Regions from separate parts of the Homo sapiens genome. Here regions 1 and 3 are each linked to region 2. The links come from fine-mapping of genetic effects on gene expression. A gene starts in region 2. Each other region holds a variant in brackets. All regions are shown on one strand. Distances are from middle to middle.

Region 1 (8,191 bases), 770 kb before region 2:
ACACATGCACATGTATGTTTATTGTGGCACTGTTCACAATAGCAAAGACTTGGAACCAACCCAAATGCCCATCAGTGATAGACTGGATAAGGAAAATGTGACACATATACACCAGGAATACTATGCAGCCATAAAAAAGGATGAGTTCATGTTCTTTGCAGGGACATGGATGAAGCTGAAAACCATCATTCTCAGCAAACTAACACAGGAACAGAAAACCAAACACCGCATGTTCTCACTCATAAGTGAGAGTTGAACAAGGAGAACACATGGACACAGGGAGGGGAACATCACACACCGGGGCCTGTTTGGGGTGGGGGGTGCTAGGGGAGGGATAGCATTAGGAGAAATACCTAATGTAGATGACAGGTTATGGGTGCAGCAAACCACCATGGCATATGTATTCCTATGTAACAAACCTGCATATTCTGCACATGTATCCCAGAATTTAAAGTATAATTTAAAAAAAAAAAAAAACTTGCAAAGTCAATTCACCAGTCTCTCACCTTGAGGAACTCTTTGGAATCAATAGGAACAGAGTAGCACCAGCCCAGTGTGGCAGTGCAGAGAGGAGCCGGAGAAGATGCCTGCCCTCCCCAGGAAGCCATAGAGGGAGATTTGCTCCAGCTCACAAGTTGAAATTCTTCGTTTTGAGGAATTTAATTATGGCTAACAGCGAGGATTAATTGCTTTATACTGTGTTAGTATAAATAAATACTTTCTTCATTTGCCTTTAAAAAAAAAAAGGAGAGGGAAGATACCGAAGTAAAGACACAGACACACAGTGAGAATGCCAGGTGATGATGGAAGCAGAGATTGGAGGAATGCAGCTGCGGCCCAGGAACGCTGAGGATTGCCAACAACCACCAGAAGCTAGGAAGAGCCAAGCAAGGTTTCCTGCTGACGTGTCTCACAGGGAGCATGGCCCTAACTTGATTTTGTACTTCTAGCCGACAGACCTGTAAAACAATACATTTCTGTTGTTTTCAGCTCTTTCTCTTTGCCTAATTCGTTATGGCAGCCCTAGCAAATTAATATGGTACTAGAGGCCTAATGTATGTATTTTGTGTGTGTGTGTGTGTGTGTGTGTGTGTGTGTGTGTGTTGGGGGTGGGGGGAGTAAGTGTCCTTTAACTGCAGAAGAAACAGAACAAATCAGGTAGACAGGAAGAAAACAAGGCAACCTTTCTTAATCATCTAAACCAAGAAGTGTCATGTTTTCCTGTGGACCTGACCTTCCCAATCACTGCTCCAGCACAGACTCCTGGCTGTGGCTGGAACACCCCAGCTGTGTTTCCTCCTTAGGGCCTTTGCACCCACTGCTTCCTCTACCTGGAACATGCCCAGGGCCAACTCCTGACTTCCTGCTTTTTCCTCAATGAAGCCCATTCTGCAATCTGCACTCCCACCCCACTGAGCACTCCCAACCCCCCTTGCTCTACTTTACTTTTTCTTTTCTCCATGTTCTCAGTGGATTCTAATATCCTAATAATGTGTTTATTATGTGTAGGGAGCATTATTTATCGTCTCCATCCATGCTAGAACATTAAGCTCCATGCAGCGATGTGAACAAACATCAAAAACAGTACCTAGTTCACTGTAGGTGCTTAAGAAAAAATTTTCTAAAAATCCATCATTCATTTTAAAATGACTACTTTAACGATTACAGAAGCTGTATGTGTTCATTGTAAAAAAAAATTAGAAAAAATTAAAAGCTTCAAACTCCCACCATCTAATAAAACCTCTCAAATTAAAAAAAAAAATGTTTTAGAAAAGGAGCAAAAGGAAGCAAAGTACACTTGGAAGAGGGACAAGCGGGCAACTTGAGAGATCCAAGTACCCCATTTGGTCCTTGACTTGGGGTTTTATACGTTGGCATGGTTTGGGGGCTTTACTTTCTCCTCCCTTAATTTTTCCCTTGGGGTGGGCTGTTGTTCAACCGCTGCATGCGAGGTGTCAGTCAGCACTCAAGGGGGTGACCACATGCATAGTGCATTTACTGAGGTTGTGCACATGCTCTGTAGGGGCGATTTTATTTTACCAGTCTAACACCCCCAAAGGAAGGTCATACATCTGATATTTTGCCGGTTAGAGCACATACTCAAGCCCACTTGCCCAACTCCTGAGATCTTATGTGGAAGCTGCTGATCACCAGCTCAAGATGTTTTCTATCTTTTGGGAGACGGTCGTCCGCTGATGCCAGCTGTGACCAATTATCATTTTAGAGAGACAGTTTAACAACCGCCTGACGATCACGTGATGGTCGCCTGACATTCCTGGGGGTTGGTTAGGGGGCCTCTCCTGACCTGCTCACGTCTGCCTCGCTAACTACTCTAACAACCAGAGGTCACAGAAGTCTTCTTTGTTGATTGCTGTGGCATGAAAGCAGAGGAAAAAAAAATGTTTTTTCCTCCATGTCAACCAACTCGCATAAAATAGCCTGTTAAATAGTCCTTCCATCATGGCCACTAACTTCCAAGAGAAATTCCTAATGCTGCCTAATAATCATAACACATTTCTCCAGTTTGTTCACTCTTCTACCCTCCTAGATAATACTTTCATGGCTTTTCTCTCTTTCAATCATTTACATCTTTCTCCATCCTCACTCTTAGTGATAAACCCTCCCTTTAATGATTCTTCCTAGAATGCAGCTGCCTAATGAGTTCTTATTGCCCACTGCCCAGATAGAGTCAATTTACCAAGGCAAGGGAATTGCAGTGGAGAAAGAATTTAATTCATGAAGAGCTGGCTGAATGGGGGACTGGAGTTTTATTATTACCCAAATCAGTCTTCCCAAGAATTCAGAGGCTAGGGTTTTTCAAAGGTAGAAGGGGTGAGGGTGGCTGCTGATTGGCTCAGGGGTACAATCATAGGCGTGTCAGGAATGACCCTCCAGCATGCTAAGTGGCTTCTGGGTGGGACAGGAGCAGTGGGTAGGTCCAGATGGAGCCACCATTGGTCTGTGGATCCTGATGGGGTCACACGTGTCAGACATGCAGGAAACCTGAGAGGATATTTCAAAAGGCCAATCTTAGGTTCTACAATAGTGACGTTATCTGCAGGAGCAACTGGGGAGGTTGCAAATCTCATGACCTCTGGAATAATGGCTGGCAGTCATTTATGTCTACACCTTAGTAAAATTCAGGGTCCTCTATCCTCCTAGCCTGGTGACCTCTCAGCTTTATAAAGGTGGTTGAGTTTTGGGGGAAGGGTTATTTTCACTTAAACTTTAAACTAGATGTCTCCCAAAGCCAGCCCAGGAATAATCAAAGGCAGCCCAAAGGCTAAAATAAAGGCAAGACGGGGGTTGACTAGATCAGATCTCCCCCATTGACATAATTTTCTCTCTGATACAATTTTGTAAAGACAGTTTCAAGAAATTACACAAACCACTTGTGCTATATTCTATTTACCAGAACACAGTTGACTGTTACATGACCACACCTACCTGCAACGGAAGCTGAGAAATGTCTTTGTGGGGGGTGGGGGAGGGACATGTACCCAGCTACAATTCTGGGCTTCTGTTATTAAAAGGAGGAAAATGGATATTGGATAATACTAGTACATTTTACTCTAATGAATTTAAAATATTGTTTTCTGAGTCCAGGGGCATCACTTCAAAACTGTGACCCATAA[G/A]CCTCAGATGGGCCCCAATTCTGCCTGGCAATCTTTCTCTAGTCCATTAACTCTCCCACTCTCCTAAATGATCCAAATAATTCTTTCATAATCTTTTTCCTCTTTTCAAAACTCTAACATCTACTTTGCCATTCTCTCTCTCTCTCGTGTGTGTGTCTGTCCATCCGTCTTTCTCTACAGAAAACCTTCCTTCCTATTTCATTGTGAAATAGAAGCAAATTAAAGAGGATGTCTCTACAAGTTCCCACTATCATATATACCCCCACATACCCATCAATCTTCATGTGCGCCCATGTCCTCTACCTTCTCTGTGCTAATATAAAGTGCTCATGATGTTATCAGCTAAGGCTAGTCCTCCACTTGAACACTAGATCACACCCCCTTTCACCAATTCAAACTCATCAACACTAGGAATTTTCTTCTGTCTTTCCTGTGTCAAGTTTTCCTCTCTTCTAGATCTTTCCCTTCCGGTTTCTGGTCTAGCAAGTAAGGAGCTTGGAAGTCATCACTCCTGTCTTCACAACAATAAAAAAGCTAAATAAACTGAAAATCAGTTGAAGTAACAGGGCACACTTCTGTCCCCCAAACTGGAGAGACAAATGGGTAAATACAGAGAATCACAACTTACTGGAATAGAAGCCCAGGGGCAGAAAACTCTGCAAGAACGAGTACTGGGGAACGAAAAACCCAAACTATAATAGATGAATTGCTGGAGGCTCTGTGTGGACAAGTTTGAAAGTTAAAAACTCCAGGGCATGTGGCCAGTCATACTGGATTTTACCTCCACTTTCGTGAGTTTTACCTCCAAGAACCCTACCAGGTTCTCAGGGTGAAGATCAGCAAAAAAAAAAAAAACAAAAAAAAAATCCTCATGCTTCTGGCAAGAGGAGGGGAAAAATAGCCATTCGAAATATGCCAAAGTGTCCAGCTCTTCTTAACAAAGCCTGCTCTCAATGGAAACTATGTTATCAGAGGCTAGCTGACTGGATTTTACCAGAGACTAATCACAGGAGAAGGAAAATACCCAACTCCAGCCCCTTTTTGCCAACTAAAGCGGGAAAGAACTGAGAAGCGCTTGTGAAAGGTGCAGCCCAGGAGCACAGGCTCGCTAAAGTCTAAGACCTAATCACAGGTCTATAGAATTCTTCCTCTCTCTCCACACCTCACCACTATATCAACAGGACTTATCTGTATGATAATAAGGGAGTACAACAGAAATAACTGCATGTTATTTCTGAGACCTCCCAAGAAGTCTCTAGGGAAATCCAAAGATAACAGGTGAGACAAAAACAAGGACACCGGAGGAAATTTTTGCCTCTGACTCCCACAGCTACAACAAACAGTAAACACAGCCTAACTTCTAACTAGATAAATAAGATAAATATACAACTTCCCACTGAAGACTTATTTACAGGCCGGGTGTGGTGGCTCACACCTGTAATCCTAGCACTTTGGGAGGCCAAGGAGGGTGGATCACTTGAGGTCAGGAGTTTGAGACCAGCCTGGCCAACATGGTGAAATCCCATCTCTACTAAAAATACAAAAATTAGCCCAGGTGTGATGGCTCGTGCCTGTAGTTCCAGCTACTTGGGAGACTGAGGCTGGAGAATCACCTGAACCCAGGAGGCGGAGGTTGCAGTGTGCCGAGATCACGCCTCTGCGCTTCGGCCTGGGTAACAGACCGAGACTCCATCTCAAAATAAATAAATAAATAAATGAAAATAAAGATGTATTTACCTCAGTTCCTTTTATCCACTACATTGTGTCCAACTTTCAACAAAAAAATTAAAGATAAAGATTAAAAAAAATAAAATTACAAGATAAACTAAAAGACAAAAAAAAAAACACAGTTTGAAGAGACAGAGCAAGCATTAGAATCAGACTCAGATATGGCAGAGATGTTAGAATTATTAGACCAGGAATTTAAAACAATGGTGATTAATATGCTAAGGGCTCTAATGGAAAAATCAGATCTTTCTTATCACCAGACAAACATGCTATTATTTCTCACATATTAAAGAAGTCCGCTTTCATGACCACATTCTTCCACCAGTTACCACCTCAGTTTTTCTGCTCCCCTTACAACAAAACTTCTTGAAAACCCTGTCTCCAATTTCTCTTCTCCCATTCTTTTTTACATACCATTTTTATTATAGAAAAATCTCCAACATGAATAGTACAATGAATTCCTGTGTATGTTACCCAACTTCAATATTTTTCAACATTTTACCAGTCCTATTTCATCTATTCCATCTATACTGTTTTATTTTTTTTCTGAAATATCTAAAACCAAATTCTAGATATCACATTTCACCCATAAATTCTTTAGGATTGTATCTTTAACAGCGAAGAATTTTGTGCATAATTCCTCAATATCAACTAATATTAGGAATTAAAGGACGTCATTACAGATCCTACAGACACTGAAAGAATAATATGAACAATTTTATGCCAAGAAATTTAGCTGCTTAGATAAATTTCTCAAAACATACAACTTACAAAAACTGACGGAAAAAGAAATACAAAATCTGCACAACATCATATTTATTAAACATGTTAAATCTGTAATTCAAAACCGTCTCATAGGCCGAGTGCAGTGGCCCATGCCTATAATCTCAGAACTCTGGAAGACTGAGGAGAGGGGATTGCTTGAGCCCAGAAGTTCAAGACCAGCATGGGGAACATAGCAAGACCTTGTCTCTAAAATAATTAATTAATTTAATTTAATTTAACTTTCTCATGAAGGAAGCTCTAGGCCCACATGACTACACAATGAATTATATTCAAACACTTAAAAAGGAAATAATATCAATCTTAGAGAAACTCAAAAAATAATACTCTGTGCTGTTGAACTATTTTTATGTCTTTAAAAAATATATCTTTTCTCTGTTGACTTAAGTCATAATCCAAGTAAGCATTCATGCATTACATTTGATTGCTATGTGTTTTATTTTTCCTTTAATCCATAATGTCTCCTCTCTTTTTTTTGAGATGGAGTCTCGCTCTGTCGCCCAGGCTGGAGTGCAGTGGCATGATCTTGGCTCACTGTAACCTCCGTCTCCTGGGTTCAAGCGATTCTCCCACCTCAGCCTTGCAAGTAGCTGGAATCACAGGCACGTGCCACCATGCCCAGCTAATTTTTGTATTTTTAGTAGAGATGGGGTATCACCATCTTGGCCAGGCTGGTCTAGAACTCCTGACCTCAAGTGATTCACCGGCCTTGGCCTCACAAAGTGCTGGGATTACAGGCGTGAGCCACCACGCCCAGCCTCTCTTAGCCATTTTCAAGTACACAGTACATTATTATTAGCTGTAGTCACCATTTTTACAATAGATCACCCGAACTTACTTGTGTCTAACTAAAACTTTGTACCTTTTTATCAGCATCTCCCCATTCCTCATAACCAGACCCTGGTAATCACCATTCTACTCTCTGCATCTCAGATTGACTGTTTTTAGAGTCATAAGACCATGCAATATTTGTCTTTCTACGCCTTGCTTATTTCACGTAGCATAATGTTTTCCAGGTTCATTCATGTTGTCACAAATGACAGGATTTCCTTCTTTTAAAGAGCTGAATAGTATTCCATTGTGTGCATGTACATTTTCTTTATCCATTAATCTGTTAATGAACATTTAGATTGATTCCGTGTCTTGGCTATTGTAAATAACGCTTCATTGAACATAGGAGTGCAGATATGTCTTTCATATACTGTTTTCATTTTCTTTGGATATATACTCAGAAGTAGAATTGTTGAAGCATATGATAATAGTTCTATTTTTAATTTTTTGAAGAGGAATCTTCATACTGGTTTTCCATAATGACTGTATTAATTTACATTCCCACCAGCAATGTATAAGAGTTCCTTTTCTCTGTATCCTCTCCAAACTTGTCTTTCATCTTTCTGATAGTAGTTCTTCTAACAGGTGTGAGGTGATATTTAATTAATTTGCATGTCCCTGATGATTAGGAATGTTGAACATTTTTTCATATATATATTGACTATTTTGTGTCTTCTTTAGAGACGTCTCTATTGAGGTACTTTGCCCATTTTAAAATCTGGTTGTTTTTTCGCAATTGAATTGTTTGAGTTCCTTATATATTATGGCTATTAGCCCCATATCAGATGTATGGTTTGCAAATACTTTCTCCCACTCTTTTGGTTGTCTCTTCACTCTGTTACTTGTTTCCTGTGCTGTGTAGCTTTTTAGTTTCATGCAATTCGATTTGTGTACCCATCCTTTTGTTGCCTGTGCTTTTGGGGCTATATTTTTAAAATCTTTGCCAACACCAATGTCAAAAAGCTATTTCCCTATGTTTTCTTCTAGTAGTTTACAGTTTCAGGTCTCAAATTTAAGTTTTTAATCTATTTGGAGTTGATTTTTGTATATGGGGTGAGATAAGGGTCCAATTTGATTCTTCTGCATGTGAATATCCAGTTTTCCCAGCACCATTTATTGAAGAGATTTTCCCTTCCCCACGGGATGTTTTTGGTATCTTCATCAAAGATCAATTGACCATAAATAGGTGGATTTATTTCCGGGTTTTCTATTCT
Region 2 (8,166 bases):
TCTTCATGGCAGTAGCAATAAATCAAATACAGGTTTTAAAAATAGCTACTCTTTTTTGCACCTTTACATTCCAGTCTGATAAATATAACTCACTTATATAACTACATAAATTGTCGTTAAGCTCTGTATTCCACAATTTCTCTTAGCCCAGGAAAGCAAGAAGTGATGATAGCATTATGGGTGTGTGTCATTTATTTTCAAGAACAGACTTTAGTGAAGGAAGGCATGCTTAAACCTTGCTTTGTAGCAAAACACTTCTTATCTTTGGGTGGATATAACTTTCTGATGCCAAAGGACTCTGTTTCCCTGCCGATCTAGATTAGAAAAGGCAGAAACTCTAACCTTTATTTATCAGTCTGTTTGACTAACAGTGTGAGCAGTGAGAAAAGAAAACTATAGTAATAAAGCTTTTTTTTTTTTTTAGAATGTTATTTCACAACCTCACTGGAATGTGGGAAGTGAAGTGCTGCAAAAGCTAGAAGCAAAGATAGAAAGTACAGGCAAGGTTCACATAATAAATCTTCCTTTTAGGTTTGAAGGTTCTTTCCATAGAAATTCCTTCACAAAGATACAATTTTATTTTAAAATATCCTGTACCTGGCTTTTATTTAAGGTCAGTTAAGTAACCAGTATATGAAAGTCTTTGTATGTTTCCACAAAACTGTTGTTAAAACTGTATTCTGGGTCAAATTATTCTTTTTTTTTTTTTTTTTTTTTGAGACAGGGTGTAGTTCTGTCGCCCAGGCTGGAGTGCAGTGGCAACTACATGGGATTACAGATGAGGTCTCACTACCTTGCCCAGGCTGGTCTCGAACTCCTTGGCTCAAGGGGTCCTCCTGCTCGGCCTCCCAGAGTGCTTGGATTACAGGCATGAGCCACCCCACCTCGCCCAGATTATTTTTAAACTGGAGTCTTCAGGTCCCCAGGGTCAAGAGATATACACTTGCCCGTTTGGGAATTCTATAAAAATGTTTTAGTTTAGTTTTGTGTTTCATTTCAGTAATTGCTTAAAAACAATATTTTCCGACTTATTAAATTAAAACTTCTTTGGCAGTGATAATTCATAACCATAAAGATATTTTCCTGAAGTAGGATTTTAATTTCTTTTTTTTTTTTTTTTTTTTGAGACGGAGTCTTGCTCTGTCGCCCAGGCTGGAGTGCAGTGGCACAACCTTGGCTCACTGCAAGCTCCGCCTCCCGGGTCCATGCCATTCTCCTGCCTCAGCCTCCCGAGTAGCTGTCTACAGGGGCCCGCCGCCACCACGCCCGGCTAATTTTTTGTATTTTTAGTAGAGACGGGTTTCACCGCGTTAGCCAGGATGGTCTTGATCTCCTGACCTCGTGACCCGCCCGTCTCGACCTCCCAAAGTGCTGGGATTACAGGCGTGAGCCACAGCGCCCGGCGGATTTTAATTTCTTAAAAGCTTTTTTATTGTCGTAAAATACATGTAACATAAAATATGCCATTTTAACCACTTTAAGTGTATACTTCAGTGGCATTAAGTACATTTACAGTGTTCTTTAGACTTTGATTTCTTACATCAGTATTTCTTACAGTGAAATTTTCAAAAGTATTTGCCAAGTTTCAAAAGAACTTTTTTCCTTTAAAAACGGTTTGTATACCACTCAAGACTATGAATCACTATTCAAGGCAATAAATTCTTCTTACAATATAGAATTTTTCTCTTGATAAATTGAGTATTCTTTCTTTAGATAATGGGAATAATACACACCCTTATGGTTTTTCCCCTTTTTAAAACCTGGAAATGAAGAAAAAAATTCGGTGTTTGTGTGACCATTTTCCCTGTTACTCATATAATTATTTGCCCATCTATTTCTTATCTTTCTATAATTACAGATTTCTCTTTTTTACATGGTTTGTGTTGTACCTTGCTTCAAATTCTTTTTTTTTTTTTTTTTTTTTGAGGTGGAGTCTTGCTCTGTCGCTCAGGCTGGAGTGCAGTGGCGCGACCTCGACTCACTGCAACCTTCGCCTCCCCGGTTCAAGGGGTTCTCCTGCATCAGCCTCCCAAGGATTCCCGGCTAATTTTCGTTATTTTTACTAGAGACGGGGTTTCACCATGTTGCCCAGGCTGGTCTGGAACTGCAGAGCTCAGGTGATGCACCCACCTCGGTTTCCCAAAGTGTTGGGATTACAGGCATGAGCCACCGCGCCCGGCCAAATTCTTTTTAGGAATTAGGTACTACATTGAGTTTTAAATGCACTCAGAAAATTCTCAAAGTAATAAATTATAGACTAAATAAATATAGCGGAATTCAGTCTAAATTATAGGAACTCCTTTTTTGATAACTAATATTTTTAAAGTACTCACTATGTGCTACGGCACTGTGCTAATCACTTTACTGTGATTTATCTAGTAATACCGTATGATGTAGGTACTATTATCACCCCACTCTAAGGAGTTCAAAGAAATAAAGAAACCTCCACAGTGTCATGAAGTAGCCCCGCTAGGACTCAGGCCTGGCTGAATCCAAAGCTCAGGCTTCTAAGCATAACGTGTACTGCTGCTTCTCAGGCTGCACATTCTATTTTACATTATTGGTAGTTTCTCTCTGGCGTTCTTTGTGGGAATGTTCACTGCCCCCGCCCCGCCCCGAAGTGGAACCCTGTCTTCTAACAAACTTTTCGCTGCTCCACCGTCTCCTGTCATGTTCCGCCTCTCAATGGAGTCCCAGCCCACACTCCGATTCTGGTCCCTGAACAGAGCCCCTTCCCCTCACACCATGGCCCCCTAGCAGAGCCTGGTCTCCTCAGATCCTCTTCTCCCAGCAGGGCCCCAACTCCTCACTCCGACGATTCCCCCAGAGTTCCGTTCCCTCAGATCCTGCTTTTCCAGCAAAGCTGCGATTCCTGTACCCCAGCAGAGAGCAATACCCCGTCGGCAAACTTCCACAGAGACATCTTACCGAGGTCCCAGCCCAGCCCCTAATTAAGGGCACACCTCTACCTTTCCCCTTCCCAACCTTCTCCCACAACTGTGCTTTCCCCCGCCCTATTCCCTTTTTCTGTTTATTAATTCTCCTCAACCTCTCCACCATCTCGTGGCCCAGTTTCAGGATTCCCCCGCAAACTCACCCACCGCACTGTCTCCTCAAAGTTGCGTTCCCAAACGGCGCAGTGCTCTGCCCGCACTTACGCTCCCAGCGCTGCTTCGGGATCTGCGCTCCCCAACTGCCCTCCGGGAATACGCCCTGCAGTTGAACAGCGCCCGAGGCCCCGCCCCCTCTGCGTCCATTGGCCATTGTTCTCGAGAAGTCCCGCCCCTCCCGCTTCCAGCCCGCCTCCCCGCCCCGCTTCCCTTGTTTTCATTCCCCCTGTCACACGAGGCAGTGGCAAGCCCGAAGGGGAGGAGAGAAGGGGGCGGAAAGAGGGCGGAAAGTGAAAGGCGCCGAGGGCCGCTCTGTCTCCCGTCTGACTCGGTTCTCGACTGCTCCGGGCCGCCGATGTATTGTGGGATCGCGGAGCCGTCCCTGAGACGCTGGGATCCGCAGAGGAGCCCACTTGAGAGCGCCTCCTGTCGTCTGTAAGGTTGCCTTGCCATCCCTCGGCACCACAACTTCCCCCGCCCCCCCATCGCCTCCTCCTCCATCCTCCAGTTCAAAATGGCGACGGCGGCGGCAGCGGCGGCGGTGATGGCTCCTCCGGGCTGCCCGGGTTCGTGCCCCAACTTCGCCGTAGTCTGCTCCTTCTTGGAGCGCTACGGGCCGCTGCTAGACCTGCCTGAGTTGCCGTTCCCTGAGCTGGAGCGGGTGCTGCAGGCGCCGCCGCCGGACGTCGGCAACGGAGAAGGTAAGCGAGGGGCCCGAACGCCCGGCGGGAAGCGGCCCTGGCGCTCTGCTACTCTCCGCTCTTCACAGGCGCCCCGGTTCTTCGCGGCTCGGGCCTCCGCGGCTCTGTCTTCCCCCTGGGACGCAACTCCGCCGGGCTGGTCTTCTCCGCCCAGCCCCCGGGGTCTTGGGCAGTGGGGAGGCGGGGCGGAGGCCCCCTAGGGCCACTCGGCCGGGCGGGGAGCTGAGGTGGAGGCGTTGCGGGCTAGGTGTGGGCTGGAGGCGGGGAGGGGTCATTGTGCCGGTCGGCAGCCCCGGGGACTGCTTCTCCGCGGCGGAGGGCGGCCCCCCACCCCGTCTCCCCCTTGGCGGCGGGGGAAGGGGAGCGCAGGTTCCGGCCAGCTTTGCGCTTTTCTCCTCCTCCCCACCCTTACTCCCTCCCCTCCTCCCACCAGTCTTCCCGACCATCTCGGGGAAGGCTGGGCTCGGCTGCTCCGGACACCTCCTTATCTCCCTTCACCTGGGTGGGCGGGGGCCAGCGGACACTCAACTCTCCCTCCCTCTGTTGGGAACTCCCCTGAGAGATTTGTCCCTTTTCCCTTCCCCTCGAGGGCTGCTTTAACCCCTAAAACTCCTTCCTTGAAGTGGGGAGGTCTGCTCCTCCCCCACGGGAGGGGGTTCTTCTCCATTCTCGGTAGGGGGGCGAAGTCGGTTCAGCTCCACTGTGGAGAGGAGAGGGTTAATTCCTCCTCCATAGTTCTCCTTCCTCTCCCCACCTCCCCCAAAATAATAGGCGAGCATCTCCCCACTTTTCCAATCCCTTCCCCCTTCATCTTGGCAGCCGGGCTTAGGCGAAGAAGTCGTCTCCCTCCCATTTGCACGGTAGGGTGGGGTGGTTAGTATGTAAGCTGGAGGAGGGGCTCTGACGGAGGGGGAAACAGTTGAAGAAGGTGCTTGTTGCTCATGTTTCTCTCTCTGGTGCCGCTGGTCTATTATTGGTGTTCGCAAGTGGTGCTCCTTCCACATAAGGCCACCGCGCGGGTGCAGGGCGCATGCTCTGCCCGGCCCCATTGAAACTTCCTGCTGCTGCTGCTGGTTCTTTTGCTGGAGCATCTCAGCGCTGCGCCTGCTGCCTCCAGCCTTCACACTGAGTGCTTATACTCACCCCCATTTATTCCCGATCCCTGCCTCTCCTTTTCTGGCACTTTTCTTTCCTCAGAGAAGGCTTTTTTGTTATACTCTGAGCATTGCCTTTATCTGGAAACAGCCCTTGGCTGGAGAAGAAACGTTTTCCAAATAGGTCTCTTTTTTTGTCCATATTAGCTGGCCAAAGTGGATTGGTTATTGTACAAGACAGATAGCTGTTTCCTTTCCAAGAAAGCAGGGTCGCTCTTCTATTCTCTATGTAAATGAAGAAGTTTCTGTTAACTGAATTTATTTGCATTGCTAGGAAGCGCCAAGTATGAAGTTCTTCAGAATATTACCTATAAAGAATCTGTATGATGTTATGGCTACCGAAGACTCAAATTAATACAGCAGTTATAATATAAGCCTAGTAATCTGTTCTTACCTGTCCACATTCCCTCTACCTGTAACAAACTGGCTTACAAAAGGCTAATTTAAAAAATAGTACAAAATAGGAGGGTGACTAATTACATTATATAAAGGCTTCTCACAGAATTTGTTTAAAAATTAAGCTCCCATTGTAGTAATTTCATTATCAAATTGTATTTACATTCTTTTTTATATTTTTTATTTTTATTTGTTTTTTGAGACGGAGTCTCACTCTGTTGCCCAGGCAGGAATGCAGTGGCAGGATCTGGGCTCACTGCTACCTCCGCCTCCCAGGTTCAAGCGATTCTCCTGCCCCAGCCTCCCGAGTAGCTGGGATTACAGGTGTGCACCACCGAGCCCGGCTAATTTTTGTATTTTTAGTAGAGACGGGGTTTCACCATGTTTGCCAGGCTGATCTCGAACTCCTGACCTCGTGATCCACACACCTTGGCCTCCCAAAGTGCTTTACAGGCGTGAGCCACCAAGCCTGGCCCGTTTTTTAATTTTTAAGAAGGTAGTCATTGTGAAGTAGGATGCCTTAGTAAGTTGCTTTTAGGATGCCTTGGGAAGTGATAGTAATGTATCTCTCAGAGAACGAACTGTGGGCATTTGGGGAAAGGATGGCTAGTAAATTGTTTTGGTAATTTCTTTGGACCAAGTTGAAATGCATAGGTTTTCTGGGATGGCGTGGTATTTTGGGTAGTATATGAGATTGCTTGAATCTACATTTATTTTAGGTATTTTGACCAGTGCATTTAGTTTATATTAATATCACAGGAATACAATATTAGAGTCAGTTGAATTGAATAGTGGTTCACTAAGTAAGTAAAAATGACAGGTAACCTGGGCTAAGAAGGATCATTTATTTCAGCCACTGCATTACCGTTGGTATAGAGTTGCTAAGGGGACTGATAATAATAGATCCTATCATAAGGTGATCTTAGAATAATTATTAATTAATGTTACACAGTTCAGAACACTTGGCAAATGAGAAGTCTCTGCAGGTGAAATGCTGTTACTGTGCAGGGAAACGATTTTCAGAACTTTGATGATGAACCATGATATCATCATCAAAGTTGGCTTGTTGGGTGAACCTCTGTCGTTTTATCAGCTATTACAAACTTTCAGCCTGTTTCAAATAGCTGATAAAATGATAGTGGCTCAGCCAACAAGATTTGAACTGAGTCTTTTTGGGAAAGAGTTGTAGTGTACAAGAGTTAAAAGACATGGATTTAGTTCCTTGCAACTGTTCTCTGAAGTTGATAGTATTATTCCTATTTGGCAGGCATAGAAACTAAGGCTCAATAGATTAAGGTGCTTAAGAGTCTATAGTTAATGGTAGAATATGATTTCCAACCCAAGTCTGAGTCCAAAGCCACAAAATTATATACCTTGCCATAGTATCATGGTTTCCAAACTGCACCAAGGCACCCTAGAGCATTGTTGCCAACTCCATCTGATAGTTTAAATTTTCAAGTAGGATACAGTGGTAGCCGAAATTTGCTGGTTGCCAGGTGAGCTACTGCCTTGACATACTTCATGGTTTCAAGGTTGTGCCACATTTCTATAGATGATATGTCTTTGTGAAGCTGGTTTTTTAGCGGTTGCTGTGGTAAAATTCACAAAAAAGTCAGTATGCAGCAGGAAAGAGGATAGCAGGGTCCACTCTGATTCCAAGGTTTGAAAAGTTGTGCAGTGCCCAACAGTAATACACATTTCACAAGTAATTATGGTTAAGAATGAAGTAAAAACATTATTTGTTGAAATTTAGCTAGGTTATTTTTTCACATGGCTACTGACTACTTAATAAGTGGAAGTGTTATTATTTCTGGCCTAGGGCTGCTGTGAGAAAATTACTGAGATACTGAGGGTGCCGTGAAGCTAGAATGTTTGAGAACCTTTGCTCTAGAAACTATCATTGAATTTCGGGGCAAGAAAGAAGGGACTATTGTGTCATTGCCTTTATTTTTCAGGAGGAAAATCAAGCTACAGAGAGAGATTTCAAGTGTATACAGCTAACTGTTGGTGTTAGTCAAATTCTTATTTGAAAAGCCCACATATATGCTGAAATTGTCAACAAAAAATTTAGATTTATAGTTGATACTAGTTATAAAAGGATGTGCCAAATGAAGGTGGTGTTTTATCCTCCTCTCCCTGCAGTCTACTTTAGTCCTCCCAATTCTGTGCTTTGTGTGGACTTCCCCAGGTTTCTCCTAACTGGAGGTAGATGATGGTGGTTATGGATAAAGTTGACGTTGACTTTGTGAGATCCCTGACACCCAAGGCTCCTAAGTATCTTTCCTCTCCTGCAGAGAATATTTCTTTTCAAGAGGAAACTATACTACTGTATTCTTTAAAAACAGTCTGGATATTGGTTGAGATGTTACATATATCTAATAAATTTATTAAGGTAAATACAGATAATGTGTTAGGATTCTCATAGTTTATACTATGGTTGGCTGAATTAGTTGTATGATATTAAGTAAGTTGAGCCATTAGTTTTTTGTTTCATTTTTGCATTTAATGATTTGAATTTTAACTCGAAGTGAAAATATCAAAGTTAAAAAAATGCCTTTTTAACTGGAATTGTAACTATAACTTACTATGGTCTCTCTTACTGGTACTGTAACTGATCTGTGTGTAACAATATATTTTTAGGTGCATTTGATAAAGTGGAAAGGTGATTACTGTAACTGGGGCCACATGTGTTGATTTAAACAAAAGATTTTACCAGGTGCATGTACTAGAGGTTGCATGAGTCTACAGTGGTAGACACTGGTAGGGCATACATACATTAATAGTAGTATTGCTGGGGCCAGAGCC
Region 3 (8,175 bases), 170 kb before region 2:
TTGGAATATACACAAGGTTCTAAGGGGCTGAAAGAAGGGTCTATAGAATTCCTTCAGGCGCAGTCTAAGCAGGCGGGGGTCACAGACTTCATAGGGGAAGAGCTCTCTATTGGTAGAACAGCTCACCTAGGAAGGAGGGCAGTACCTTCCTCACCATGAAGTTGTGACAGGTGGGCAGAGTCCCTGTCGGGAGTCAGTGATGCTCCATGTGTCTCCACGTAGATGTTGCTAGGGTTGATCCTAAATCATCCTGATGTCCTATTTCTCAGATATTAATGTGTATACAAATTACCTGGGGACGTTGTTCAAATGTCGATTCTATTTGATAAGTCAAGCAGAGGAGGTGAGGCAAGATTCTGCATTCCTGACATGCCCCCAAATTTACACCAGTGCATTGGTTGCATTCTTAGATCCTTAGACTTGTAGAGTGGCAAGGCTTAGAGCATCCAGCAGGATACTGATCCTTAAACATTACATGGATTCATTCATCCAGCATTAAAATATGTTAATACAAATACAAAATATGTCAATACATAATATAAAATTTACAATTTTAACAATTTTAAGTATAAAGTTCAGTGGCATTAAGAACATTAGCACTGTTGCACAATGTGATTTCCTCTCTTCCCAACATTCTGTTGTTCCCATTTCCCAAGACTGCTCAGCCCTCTTCCACCCATCCTCACATGACCAGATATGCCATGTGTTCTTGTGTTTGCATATCTCAAAACTCTTGCACTGGTTGTCTCTTCTCACAGAATACATGCCATTCTTCCCTTTCTTTTTGTTCTCCACCCAGTGGACTTAACATTTGTGCTTCAAGACCCAAATGAAACCTCAGCGAGAGCTTAGTCTCTTCTTCACCTGTTTCTGTAGCATTCTGTGGTACTAATCTATTTGTACTTTTTGTTCAGTGCTGCTGTCATTACCGGTGTACCTATCTTCCCACCAGTCGGAGGTCCTTGATGGCAGAGCTAATGCCTGGCTCATCTCCGTGTCCTGGAGATGGACAATAGGGCCTGGCTCACTAAAGTGTTATTGGTGGTTGAATGACAGTTGATATTGCTTGTCCTCTCCCTTATATAATACTTAGGGAAAAAATTCCTAGCTTTTGACCTAACTACAGCTTCGATAAGACTGAAAACTGAGTTTGAGAGGACTAGGATAGAAATGGCTAAGAATTTTAAGGGAAGAGCTAATTTCTTCACTTAATTTTTCATCAGTTGTTAACATAAAGTGATTAAATGAGATCTTAGTGCTTCTGTTCTTTTTTCTCCGCTGAAAAGATGAGGAGGGAGAACTGATATGTGCCTAGCACTTACATATACGTATAATAAAGTTATGTTTAATAACAGATTTATCGACTAGCTCTGTGATAATAAAGTATTGGTATGCCCTCCTATAGAAGAAGGCCTTCCCCAGCTAGTAAGTTGTAATTGAATACAAATTCCTCTGACTCCAAAGTCCTTATTCTTTTTATCATGTCATACTGTGTTCTTGTCTAGAATAATTCTACTCTCTTTTCTATAGAAATGTGAATTTGTAAGGAGGTGATTGCTCAGTACATAAAAACGCACCATTAGGTGGTAAGGAAATTTATTTTATTTTATTATTATTTTTTAACAGAGACAGGATTTCACCATGTTGCCCAGGCTGGTCTCGAACTCCTGGGCTCAAGGGATCCTCCTGCCTCAGCCTCCCAAAGTGCTAGGATTTCAGGTGTAAGCCACTACGCCCATCGGATATTTGTTTCCTTTTCTTCTGTTTTGAGATGGAGTTTCGCTCTTTTCGCCCAAACTGGTGTGCAGTTGCGCAATCCTAGCTCACTGCAACTTCTGCCTCCTGGGTTCACGCAATCCTCAGCCTCCTGCATAGCTGGGACTGCAGGCATACACCACCACCCCCAGCTAATTTTTGTGTTTTTAGTAGAGATGGGGTTTTGCCATGTTGGCCAGGCTGGTCTTGAACTCCTGGCCTCAAGTGATCCGCCTGCCTAAGCCTCTCAAAGTGCTGGGATTACAGGCATGAGCCACCATGCCATGTCTGATATTTGTTTTCTAATAAAGAATGGACTTTGGGAGACTGAAGCAGAGGGATCACTTGAGGCCAGAAGTTCGAAACCAGCCTGGGTAACATGGCAAAACCTGTCTCTACTAGAAATACAAAAATTAGCCATGTGTGGTGGCACACACCTGTAATTCCAGCTAGTTGGGAGTCAGGGAGGTGAATCGCTTGAACGTAGTAGGTGGAGGTGGCACACACCTATAATCCCAGCATGTTGGGTGTCAGTCAGAGAATCATTTGAACCTAGGAGGTGGAGATTGCAGCAAGCCAAGATTGCACCATTGCACTCCTGCCTGGGCGACAGTGTCTTGCTCTGTCTCAAAAAAATGGAGTAGATCCTTTGTGTGACCTCTAAACCCAAAGGCTACCACAATCCTCAGAGATAGGTAGAGCAAAATGTTAGTGTAAGGCTGGGCACCGTGGCTCATGCTTGTAATCCCAGCACTTTGGGAGGCTGAGGTGCCAGGATTGCTTGAGCCCAGGAGTTAAGACCAGCCTGGGCAACATAGAGAGACTCCATCTCTAAGAAAAAAAAAAAGTATACCTATTTTACAGAGACATAAACTGAGACTCGGAGAAATTAAATGACTTGCCTAAAGTCATAGGAACTGGTAAAGGCAAAATTGAGACTCATGGCCTTGTCACCAACCCGGTACTCTTTCTGGTTTATAATACTGTATTTTCCTAAGTCCATCAGCTAAATATATTATTTGGTATAATGGAAAATCATTTCCACCAAATGAGGCAAAGTTAAATTTGCAGATTCTGTGTTTTCGATTTTCTCTACCCCTTGCAGCCACAGGAGGAAATTGCTACTAAGAAACTCCGACTAACAAAACCAAGTAAATCTGCAGCACTCCACATAGATCTGTGTAAAGCTACCTCCCCAGCAGATGCTTTGCAATACTTGCTCCAGTTTGCCAGGAAGCCTGTCGAGGCGGAAAGCGTAGAGGGAGTAGTCAGGATTCTCTTGGAACATTATTACAAGGTAAGAAAATCTTGAGGATCTGATGGGAGTATATCATGGGAGTTGTATCATGTCTGCAGAATGGTTAATATTACAAATAAATAGGGTATTCATTAGGAAGCTTTTATTGAGTGTCTTCCAAGTGCTAGGTACTATGGATACCGAGATAAAAAAGATACAGATCTTGACCTCAGAAAGTTATACTGTGTATAGTAGATGGAAACAAGACATGTCAATGATAAGGTGCATCATACTGCTGAAGTTACTGTGAGTGCAGTATGTGCAGAGTACAGTGGAAGCACAAAAGAGGAGT[A/T]AATATCAATCATGACCCATTCATCTCTGGAATGTGGTCCTGCTGTTCCTTTCCTAATTCATGGCCCTCATATCTAATTGCAGTGGCCCTCTTTTTTAATTAAAAATACATTTTTTTTTTTTTTTTTTTGGAGACAGAGTCTCGCTCTGTTGCCCATGCTGGAGTGCAGTAGTGCAATCTTGGCTCGCTGCAACCTCTGCCTCCTGGGTTCAAGCGATTCTCCTGCCTCAGCCTCCTTAGTAGCTGGGATTACAGGCACGTGCCACCACACCCTGCTAATTTTTGTATTTTTAGTAGAGACGGGGTTTTGCCATGTTGGCCAGGCTGGTCTCGAACTCCTGACTTTAAGTGATGCAGCCACCTTGGCCTCCCAAAGTGTTAGGATTACAGGCGTGAGCCACTGCGTCTGGCCAAAAAAACTGTTTTTGAGACAGAGGCTCACTGTCACCCAGCCTAGAGTTTAGTGGCATCATCATAGGTCACTGTAGCCTGGAACTCCTGGGCTTAAGTGATTCTCCTGGCTCAGCCTTCCACGTAGGTGGGACTGCAGACGTGCCACTACTCCAGGCTAAGTTTTGCATTTTTTTTTTTTTTTTTTTTGAGACTTGGTCTGTCACTCAGCCTGGAGTATAGTGGTGGCACAATCTTGGCTCACTGCAACCTCCGTCTCTTTGGTTTAAGTGATTCTCCTGCGTCAGCCTCCAGAGTGGCTAGGACCGCAGGTGTGTGACACCACACCCAGCTAATTTTTTTTGTATTTTTAGTAGAGGTGGGGTTTTGCTGTGTTGGCCAGGCTGGTCTTGTACTCCTGACCTCAAGTGATCCATGCACCCTGGCCTCCCAAAGTGCTGGGATTGCAAGCGTGAGCTACCATTCCCAGCCCAAAAATCATTATTATTATTACTATTATTATTTTTGAGATGGGGTCTTGCTTTCTCGCCCAGGCGGGAGTGCAGTGGTGCTATCACGGCTCACTGTACCCTCGACCTCCGAGGCTCAATTGATCCTCCTGCCTCAGCCTTCTGAGTAGCTGGGACTACAGGCATGTGCAGCATGCCTGGCTAATTTTTGTATTTTTTTTTTTTTTTTGTAGAGACAGGGCTTTGCTATGTTGCACAGGCTGATCTCGAATTCCTGGGCTCAAGCAATCCACCCTCCTTGGGCTTCCAAATTGCTGAGATTACAGGTGTGAACCACCACACTCAGCCCCCAAATTGTTAAGCTTATGGAAAAGTAGATAAAATACTATAGTGACCTACCAAATATCCATTCCTAGAATTTAACAGTTATTAGTATTTTGCCAAATTTGCTCTATTTTTTCGCTGAATTTTATTTTATTTTGTTATTATTTTTTTTGAGATGAGTCTCACTCTGTTGCCCAGGCTGGAGTGTAATAGCACTCCTGGGTTCAAGCAGTTCTCCTGCCTCAGCCTCCCAAGTAGCTGGGACTACAGGAGTGCGCCATCACGCTCAGCTAATTCTGTATTTTTAGTAGAGATGGGGTTTCACCATGTTGGCCAGGCTAGTCTCGAATTCCAGACCTCGGGTGATCCACCTGCCTCGGCCTCCCAAAGTGCTGGGATTACAGGTGTGAGCCACCGCGCCCAGCCTTGTTTTGTTGAATTTTTAAAAAGATATGTCATTTTTTTCTAATTATTTCATTACATATCTATTAAAAAGGGATACCTTTTTGTTGTTTTCTTTTTTTTTCTCACTGCTATGAGAAAGTAGAGGGACTTTTTATTTTTTAACATAGCCACCTAACCCTAATGAATAAAGTTAAGTAATTCTTTAATGTCATCTAAGAATTAGTTGATATTTAGATTTCTGTAGTTGTTCTCCCAGTACCTTTTTATAGTTGATGTATTCAAATCAAAATGCAAACCAGGTCCCCACATGGCATTCAGTCTTTTCAAAAATCTACAACAGTTACTATTTTGGTGACATTGATTTGATGAAGAAACTGAGACAGTTCTTTTGTAAAATGTCTTGTTTTCTGAATTCATTTACTTCTTTAAGGATTAACTTGTTCCTCTGTTCTCTGTATTTACTATGAACTGAAAGTTAGATCTATAGGCTTTGTTAGATTTAAGTTAAGCATATTTTTGACAATTTTAAGACTATGTTATAAATGGTGACTTGTACTTCATATTGCAGCTATCAGCATGCAAATGTCACCGTTACATTGAGGTCTTCCTTTACCCTTCTGTTTCATATCGAAACTGCCTATCCCCACCCCGCACTTCCTAGTCCCCTTCCTTGATTTTGTTTTCTCCATAGTAATTACCATCTTCTAATATTCTGTATAATTTCTTGTTAATTATGTTCCTTGTCCATTTCCCCATGCAGGAACATAAGCTTCCCTTGAGCAGGGATTTTTATGTTTTTTAATTGTTGTTTCTACAGAATCAAGAACAGTGCCTGGTAAAATAAATATTTGTTGAATGAATAAATGAATTAATTGATGCTTTTGTGATACATTTTACTCAACAAATATATATCAGACTTTGTTCTGGGCACTGGACGGTGTCCATTAGCACAATTGTTAAGTCTTATGCGTTGCAATTGTTTGCCATATGTGTCTATCTCCTTCAGACTTTGAGCTCCGTAAATTCAGAGGCTGCAGATCCATTAGTCTCTATCCCAGTGCCTGGCAGGTTCCTAGGAACATTGAAGGGACATTATAAATGTTTCACTTATGTTTTACGTGAATAAAATCAGGCTTTCTTTTTTTGTTGTTCTTTTCTTTAAAAAATTTTTTAAAAAATCGTATCTATCTATCTAGAGACTGGGTTATGAGACTGGCTAATTTTTATATTTTTGATAGAGATGAGGTTTCACCATGTTACCAAGGTTGGTCTCAAACTCCTGGGCTCAAGCGATTCACCTACCTCAGCCTCCCAAAGTGCTGGGATTACAGGCATGAACCACTGTGCCTGGCATCTTTTTGAGTGTTGCTCTGTTGCCCAATCTAGAGTGCAATGGCGTGATCACTGCCCACTGAAGTCTGGACTCCCAGGCTCAAGCCATCCTCCCACCTCAGCCTCCTGAGGAGCTGGGACCACAGGCACATGCCACCACTCCCGGCTAATTTTTTCTTTTTAATTTTTTTTGTAGAGATGGAGTCTCTCTGTGTTGCCCAGGCTGGTCGCGAATTCCTGAGCTCAAGCAACCCTCCTGCTTGGCCCTCCCAAAGGATTGGGATTACAGACGTGAGCTACCACATCTGACCAAAATCAGGATTTCTGTTCTCAAGAAGTTTTCGATCTCTCAGTGATCTATTTTCCGTTAGTCTTTTTCTTAGCAATATCTACCATTATTATTATATTAAAGATCTGTTACCAATAATCATCTATAATAATACTTCTTAGAGCAGTTAACATTATATTGCTTGTTAGAGTTTGAAAGCACTTTCCATATGTAATATTTTATTTAATCCTGGTGACAGCACCATTGTTATCTCTAAATTCCAGATATGGAACTAAGCTTAGAGCTGTTTAGTATCCAAGGTCACCCAGCTAGTAAATGGAAGGTATGGATTTGAACTTGGGTTTTTTTTTTAAAAAACCTTTTGTTATGGAACATTTCAGATATATACTATGTAAGTAAAGAGAATAGTTTAATTAATTCCCATGTACCCATTACCTGGCTTCAAAAATTATCATTTTGTGGCCAAACTTGTTTCATTTTCCCTCTTCCCCAATCCACTTCTACTTCTTTACCCTCACCTTCTCCACCAGATTCTTATGAAAATAAATTCCTGGCATCATATTATTTTAATCATAAATTTTGATTTATATCTTTAAGTGGTGAAGACTCTTTTTTTATTATTATACTTTAGGTTCTAGGGCACATGTGCACAACGTGCAGGTTTGTTACATGTGTATACATGTGCCATGTTGGCTTGCTGCACCCATTAACTCATCATTTACTTTAGGTATTTCTCCTAATGCTATCCCTCCCCCAGCCCCCCACTCCCCAACAGGCCCCGGTGTGTGATGTTTCCCGCCCTGTGTCCAAGTGTTCTCACTGTTCAATTCCCACCTATGAGTGAGAACATGCGGTGTTTGGTTTTCTGTCCTTGTGATAGTTTGCTGAGAAGGATGGTTTTCAGCTTCATCCATTTCCCTGCGAAGGACATGAACGCATCCTTTTTTATGGCTGCATAGTATTCCATGGTGTATATGTGCCACATTTTCTTAATCCAGTCTATCGTTGGTGGACATTTGGGTTACTTCCAAGTCTTTGCTCTTGTGAATAGTGCCGCAATAAACATACGTGCACATGTATCTTTATAGTAGCATGATTTATAATCCTTTGGGTATATACCCAGTAATGGGATTGCTGGGTCAAATGGTATTTCTAGTTCTAGATCCTTGAGGAATTGCCGCACTCTCTTCCACAATGGTTGAACTAATTTACACTCCCAACAGTGTAAAAGTGTTCCTATTTCTCCACATCCTCTCCAGCATCTGTTGTTGCCTGACTTTTTAATGATTGCCATTCTAACTGATGTGAGATGGTATCTCATTGTGGTTTTGATTTGCATTTCTCTGATGACCAGTGATGGTGAGCATTTTTTCATGTGTCTGTTGGCTGCATAAATGTGGCGAAGACTCTTAAAAAACATAATCTTTTGTCATGTCTAAAAGCAAAATTTAACTCAGGTGTTCTGATGTCAGATCTCAAGCACTTTAACCAGTCCATGCTGCATGCATTAATCAAGTGGACCCTAGCTCCTAAGGAAATGAGGAGGGATGCCAGATGGACCCAGTTCTAGATTGTTGACCATAGTGTTTTTTACCCTTTCTTCTGTTCTATCCAGAAATGT

Evidence for each region. PIP is the estimated chance that this variant, and not a neighbour inherited with it, causes the effect.
Region 1: its variant is fine-mapped to the expression of AAMDC in tibial artery (GTEx, PIP 0.99).
Region 3: its variant is fine-mapped to the expression of AAMDC in blood mononuclear cells (TOPMed, PIP above 0.99).

Annotation. Positions count from the first base shown.
Region 1 is chr11:78,589,721-78,597,911 of GRCh38, reverse strand. No RefSeq gene overlaps it. Among named protein-coding and RNA genes, the nearest start is that of NARS2, 19 kb to the right of the region's middle. The variant G/A (reference allele first, on the strand shown) is at 3,636.
Region 2 is chr11:77,816,173-77,824,338 of GRCh38, reverse strand. AAMDC (adipogenesis associated Mth938 domain containing) reads right to left here and starts at 3,195. Exons shown (of 4, transcript NM_024684.4): 1 at 3,098-3,195. It overlaps RSF1 (remodeling and spacing factor 1), which reads left to right and starts at 3,617. Exons shown (of 16, transcript NM_016578.4): 1 at 3,617-3,811. The coding sequence starts at 3,625. RefSeq lists silencers at 3,158-3,317, 3,908-3,997, 4,138-4,227 and enhancers at 3,418-3,557, 3,568-3,737, 3,290-4,262, 4,858-4,967, 4,263-5,236.
Region 3 is chr11:77,985,985-77,994,159 of GRCh38, reverse strand. It overlaps INTS4 (integrator complex subunit 4), which reads left to right. Exons shown (of 23, transcript NM_033547.4): 2 at 2,861-3,052. Among named protein-coding and RNA genes, the nearest start is that of INTS4, 4.6 kb to the left of the region's middle. The variant A/T (reference allele first, on the strand shown) is at 3,345.